2 separate regions of the Homo sapiens genome follow, and region 1 is linked to region 2. Evidence: fine-mapped expression QTL. A gene starts in region 2. The other region holds a variant in brackets. All regions are shown on one strand. Distances are between the middles of the regions. Region 1 overlaps DRC7 (dynein regulatory complex subunit 7). Region 2 holds the start of DRC7 (dynein regulatory complex subunit 7).

Region 1 (2,910 bases), 23 kb after region 2:
GCTCACGCCTTTAATCCCAGGACTTTGAGAGGCCGAGGTAGGTGGATCACTTGAGGCCAGGAGTTCAAGACCAGCCTGGCCAACATGGTGAAACCCTATCTCTACTAAAAATACACAAATTAGCTGGGTGTGGTGGCGGGCACCTGTAATCCCAGCTACTCAGGAGGCTGAGGCATGAGAATCGCTTGAACCCAGGAGGCAGAGGTTGCAGTGAGCCGAGATCATGCCACTGCACTCCAGCCTGGGCAACAGAGCAAGACTCCATCTGAAAAAAAAAAAAAAAGAGTGAAAAAAGGCAAATATCTATACAATTGGGTTCCTATCCACTAAGCCCATTAAGCTTTGCCACAGTCGCTGTGACATCTACCAGCAGTTCTCTCCCCAACTCTCCTCTGCTGTGCCCCCCACTTCTCTCCCCTCCACCCACGAGCTAGGGCAGAGAAATACTCAGGAGCCCTCCCAGGACCCACACATGACAGTGAGTACTAGGCTTAGAGTTGGCTTCAGGACAGCTTAATATTAACACCCCTCCAGGCAGCTGTTCTGCAGCCTCTGATTTCCTCTGGAACATGATTTAGGGTGGGGAGAACACCTTGCTCTAGGAAGGTTGATTAGAATGTGAGGTGCTCCCCACCTTCTAGGAATTATCTGACAGATGAGCCACTTTTATTGAGGGGACTGAGGACTCAGGTGGGCTGGGTGAAAAGAGGTCAGGAGTTTGAGACCAGCCTGACCAACATGGTGAAACCCTGTCTCTACTAAAAATGCAAAAATTAGCTGGGCTGTGGTGGCGAGCACTTGTAGTCCCAGCTACTCAGGAGACTGAGGTAGGAGAATCACTTGAACCGGGGAGATAGAGGTTGCAGTGAGCCGAGATCATACCACTGCACTCCAGCCTGGGCAACAGAGGGAGACCCTGTCTCAAAAAAAAAAAGAAAAGAAAAATAAAAGAAGGTGGCAGACACACTCCATGGAGGAGAAATTCCCACCCACCTGCTGTTTTTTTTTTTTTTTTGGAGAGACAGGGTCTTACTCTGTCTCCCAGGCTGGAGTACAGTGGTGTGTTCACAGCTCGCTGCAGCCTCAACTTCCTGGAATCAAGTGATCCTCCTGCCTCAGCCTCCCAAGTAGTCAGAACTACAGGTGCATAACACCATGCACTGGCTTAAAAAAAAAAAAAAAGGCCAGGCACGGTGCCTCATGCCTGTAATCCCAGTACTTTGGGAGGCCAAGGCAGGCGTATCACTTGAGGTCAGGAGTTCGAAACCA[G/T]CCTGGCCAAAATGGTGAAACCCCATCTCTACTAAAAATATAAAAATGAGCCAGGCATGGTGGCATGTGCCTGTAATCCCAGCTACTCAGGAGGCTGAGGCAGGAAAATCGCTTGAACCTGGGAGGCAGAGGTTGCAGTGAGCCGAGATCACGCCACTGCACTCCAGCCTGGGCGACAGAGTGAGACTCTGTCTCAAAAAAAAAAAAGAAAAGAAATTGTGGAGATGGGATCTCCCTTTGCTACCCAGGCTGGTCTTGAACTCCTGGGCTCAAGTGATCCTTCTGTGTTGGCCTCCCAAAGTGCTGGAACTACAGGCATGAGCCACCATGCCCGGCTCTCCACCTGCATCTTATGTATAACTTCCACGTGTGCCTGCCTATTTCCCTTGTTCCTGGCATGGGTAAAATAAACAGGAGGAAGCCTTTTTAAAAAACCTTCCACTTCCTGGGAGTTGCTAGACCCTTCTGCCATCAAATCTTGCTGGTTTGTTTTCATTGGCTCTAAGCACTGCCCAGCCGATGCGGAAAGACCTGCACATCCAGGTCTAGCCCAGGCCAGAGAGCCTCCTTGTCTTTCACAGAGGTCAACACGAGATTTCCTCACAGGGAGGCTGAATGATGGGCAGGGAGTTCTGCTCCCCCTCGGGGCCTCAGTTTCCCTGTTGGGATGAGGAGTGTGGGCATGGACTCTCAGAGCCACCTGGGACTGACGTTCTGCTTCCCCAAGCCCTGGGCCCAGGTCCCTTCTCTGCCCCGGAGTAGCCATCTCCCAACTCCCCATGGATCAGGTGGGGACGTGGTGGCTGTGGGGTACACTCAGTTGACTGCCCTCATCCCCAACAGGACTTGATCTTTGACCTGGGTGACCCTGTGAGATGGGAGTACATGCTCCTGGGGACTGATAAGTCTCAGCTGTCCTTGACTGAAGAAGACGACAGTGGGATAAACGATGAGGATGATGTGGAAAATCTGGTGAGTCTCAGCAGCTCGAGAGCCCAGGGAATGTGTGTGAAGGCTTCAGGGAGCCTGACAAGTGTCCCCAGCAGCATATGTGTGGCAGTGGGGGATGGCCCAAGTAGACCAGTGATGGGTTCCTCAAAGCAGGAAGGCTTGAGCAATTCCCTTATTTTACAGATGGGCACATTGAGGCCCAGAAAGGCCAGAAACCTACCCAGGACCTCCCAGTGGGTTACGGAAGGGACAGGACTTGACGTCAGGTCTTCTGCCCCCCATATCGTCCACCTTGTTCAGGAGTTGCCCTGCTCCTTTGGAAAGCATGTCCCTTGCCAGCCTGGGCAACATAGTGGGACCCTGTCTCTACAAGAAAATTTAAAAATTAGCTGGCTGTGGTGGCATGCACCTGTTGTCCCAGCTACTTGGGAGGCTGAGGCAGGAGGATCACTTGAGACTGGGAGGCCGAAGCTGCAGTGAGCCATGTTCATGCCACTGCATTCCAGCCTGCGCAACCCCACCCCACCACAAAAAATAAAAATAAAAATAAATTTAGAAAAAGAAAGTTGCAGAGCGGGGTCATAACACCCCGCTCTGCAACCCCCTGGGAGTCCCAGAGCTGGCTGTTCTCAGTTCTATCCCAAGTAGCCATCATGAGCCCCACATGCTGCCAGGCCTTTCTTGTCTGTT
Region 2 (2,910 bases):
AGCTCCCTCTAGAACACCTGGACACCGAGTGCCCGTCACTGGAAGGACGAAGAGGTAATAAGTGTGGATCCACACAATAACGTGGAGAGATCTTAAAAACACAGCCCTTCATGAAAATATAAGAACCAGAAGGATATATTTGTTCAGTCTCATATTAAACATATATTAAAAACACCAGCATGCCAAACAATACTCATTTTGGAAAAAAAAAATACACATCAGAATGGTTACTTTATAGAGGTGGGAAATGAAAGTGGGTATGAAGAGAAAAAGGAATGAATAAATATGTAAAAGGAATGAAGTGTTGCATAGGGTTGAAAAAGGACAATGAAGCCTATGCTGCATCCCACTAGCATAACGCATCACCTGTTTTCCTTTCTCCTCCCTCCTCCCTTCCTGCCTTCATCCCAGCCAGTTCCCCACAGAGGTAATTACGAGTTGCTTAGCACCAAGTCTGAAATACTACACACACTGTCTCGTGAGCTCTCCACAGTGCAATTGATCCTTTAGCACCAAGTCTGAAATACTACACACACTGTCTCGTGAGCTCTCCACAGTGCAATTGATCCTTTACAGCTTATTTTTATGGCTGCATGATATTCCAGCTGGGAGGGGGAACATCATTCTCTATTCATGAGAATTGAGGCAATTCCTAAGTTTCTAGCAGTAACACTAACTGTGCAAACTTGTCAGCACAGTGACAGTCTGGATTCCCTCCTGGCAGCCCTATCCCCTGACCAAAAAAGGCCCATGCACCCCTCCCTCCAAAAATAAAACAGTGAAGATTATATTTTAGGACTGTATTGGTAAAAACACAGATATAATTCAGGGCAGATTCACACTTATATAGTCATTATTATTCTCATTTTTTTCTTCTGAATTTAAAAGAAATTAAACATTTTCATGAGCCACTAGCCTAATGGATAGGTTTTCCCCGTACTTCGAGGTAATGTTCTACATCACAGCTCCGGCCTGGACTAGAACCCAGGACTCAGTCAAGGCAGCCTGGTTCTGTCCACCGCAGCTGGCAGCTACTCCAGGCCCCACACTGGTTTCTGTCTGTCTCGATCAAGGCCACATTCGGCATGCCGTGGGGCAGGGGCTGTGCTGTGCTGGTAAATGTTTAACAACTGGCTGGCTCAGAGGAAAAGCCCTGGTCTTGGCGTTTGCTAATTTTTGTGGTGTAAATAACCCCATGGCCAATTTTTTTTTTTTTTTTTTTTAGAGAGGTTCTCACTATATATTGCCCAGGCTGGTTTTGAACTCATGGGCTCAAAGGATTCTCCCGCCCTGGCTTCCCAAAGTGCTGGGATTACAAGTGTGAGCCACCGTGCCCAGCCCTCTTAATTTTTAATAATGGCTGTGTTTCACAAAAATTTTGGAAAGTTTAACAACTATCAAGTTGATGCCCCACTATACCAGTGCACCGCTGGCAGAAGGACCCATGAAACCTGGGAAGACTACATTTCCCAGAAGCCTCCTCTCCCAGGACCGGCGTTCAGCTTCCCAGGTTGTTACCATGGAGATGGCTAACAGCTAGAGCAGGCTGTCCTCGGAGGGGTGAGGAGGGAGCAAGGGACTTGGGGTGGCTGGACCCTGTCTGGCAGGGAAAGGGTGAGGCTGGTGGCCCCCTTCTGCCTGGGGGCCTCCAGCCCTGATCTTTCTGGGGAAGTTGTTGGTGGGGTGTGTGTGCGTGTTTATGTGTGTTGGGAGGAGGAAGTTGCTGGTGGAGAGGGGGTGCAGGGAAGGGCCGGTGGGTTGGGGCAGAATCTAAGGAACCTTGAGATAAGACTGCCTTCCCCACACTGGGCTATAGCTGAAGAGGCCACCTGTGTAGGGAATAAAGTGCTGTGGGTTCTTCTCCCCAGCTCTGCCTCTGATGGTGTTCTGGGACTGACACGTCGGCTTCCTCTTCAGCCTACTTCTTTCCTTGCCCACCACTCCCCCACCCCCACCATCCCTTCTAGCACTTCCCCATCTCATATCTCTTCCAGCCTGAGACACACAGGTTTCACAACCAGAAATACAGGGGTTCAAATCCCAGACCTGCTACTTACTGGCTGTACCTTAAGCAGTGCACTTAACTTCTCTGGGCCCCAATCTTCTCATCTGCAAAGTGGGTGTCCTCAGTGTCTGCCTCATAGAGTCAGTAGAGGATAAGTGAGATGATCTCCGTACAACCCTCAGCACAGGTCTGACACACAGTAGGCATTCAGCAAACTGTAAATGCCTTGTAATGGTGATGACTGCCCTTCCTGGGCTCATTGTCTCTGGGACCAAGAGGCCAACAAATGGATCTGATCACTGAGAAGTGCTGCTTGGCTAGAGGTTCTCCCCTGAGGATCTGGGGTCCTGAATGGTGTTGGGCTACCTAGGCCTTGGGTGGCTTCCAGCCAGATGAGCATTCGTCCCCTCCTGAGTCCCAGAGCACAGAATGTCAGAATTGGACAGAAAATATCTGCCCTCCCTTCCTACTATAAAGAGAAACTAAGGCACAGAAAGGCGCAGACAGTGACCCAAGGGTCCAGCAGGAGCTACTGGCAAAGCCAGGGTTTCCCCAACCAGGCTCAGTCGTGGCTGGTGGCCAGGGACTCACCTCCCTAGGAGGCCGAGGTGGCCCATGTGGGTGTGGAGTTGGAAATTGGGGCCAGCCTTTATCTGCTGCTCCCTTCTGCCCTCTTGCTCCTGGCTTCACCCAGGGAAGTGGGGGATGATTAGAAAATCAAGGGGATTCTGCTTTTTTTCCTTACTACTCGCCCCCTTTGTCCTGTGGGTTTCGTTTGTTTTCCTCATCTCTGGACCCCCATTTGCCGTAAGGAAAACAGATGTTCGAGGACAGAAATGGAAAGACCCCAGCTGGGAGGCTGCAGATAGTGCATCAGCTGGGATGGCGTTGGGTGGTGTGGAACA

Evidence for each region.
Region 1: its variant is fine-mapped to the expression of DRC7 in testis (GTEx, PIP above 0.99).

What each region holds. Positions count from the first base shown.
Region 1 is chr16:57,716,235-57,719,144 of GRCh38, forward strand. It overlaps DRC7 (dynein regulatory complex subunit 7), which reads left to right. Exons shown (of 19, transcript NM_001289162.2): 9 at 2,113-2,241. Among named protein-coding and RNA genes, the nearest start is that of KATNB1, 18 kb to the right of the region's middle. The variant G/T (reference allele first, on the strand shown) is at 1,270.
Region 2 is chr16:57,693,293-57,696,202 of GRCh38, forward strand. It overlaps DRC7 (dynein regulatory complex subunit 7), which reads left to right and starts at 1,514. Exons shown (of 19, transcript NM_001289162.2): 1 at 1,514-1,560.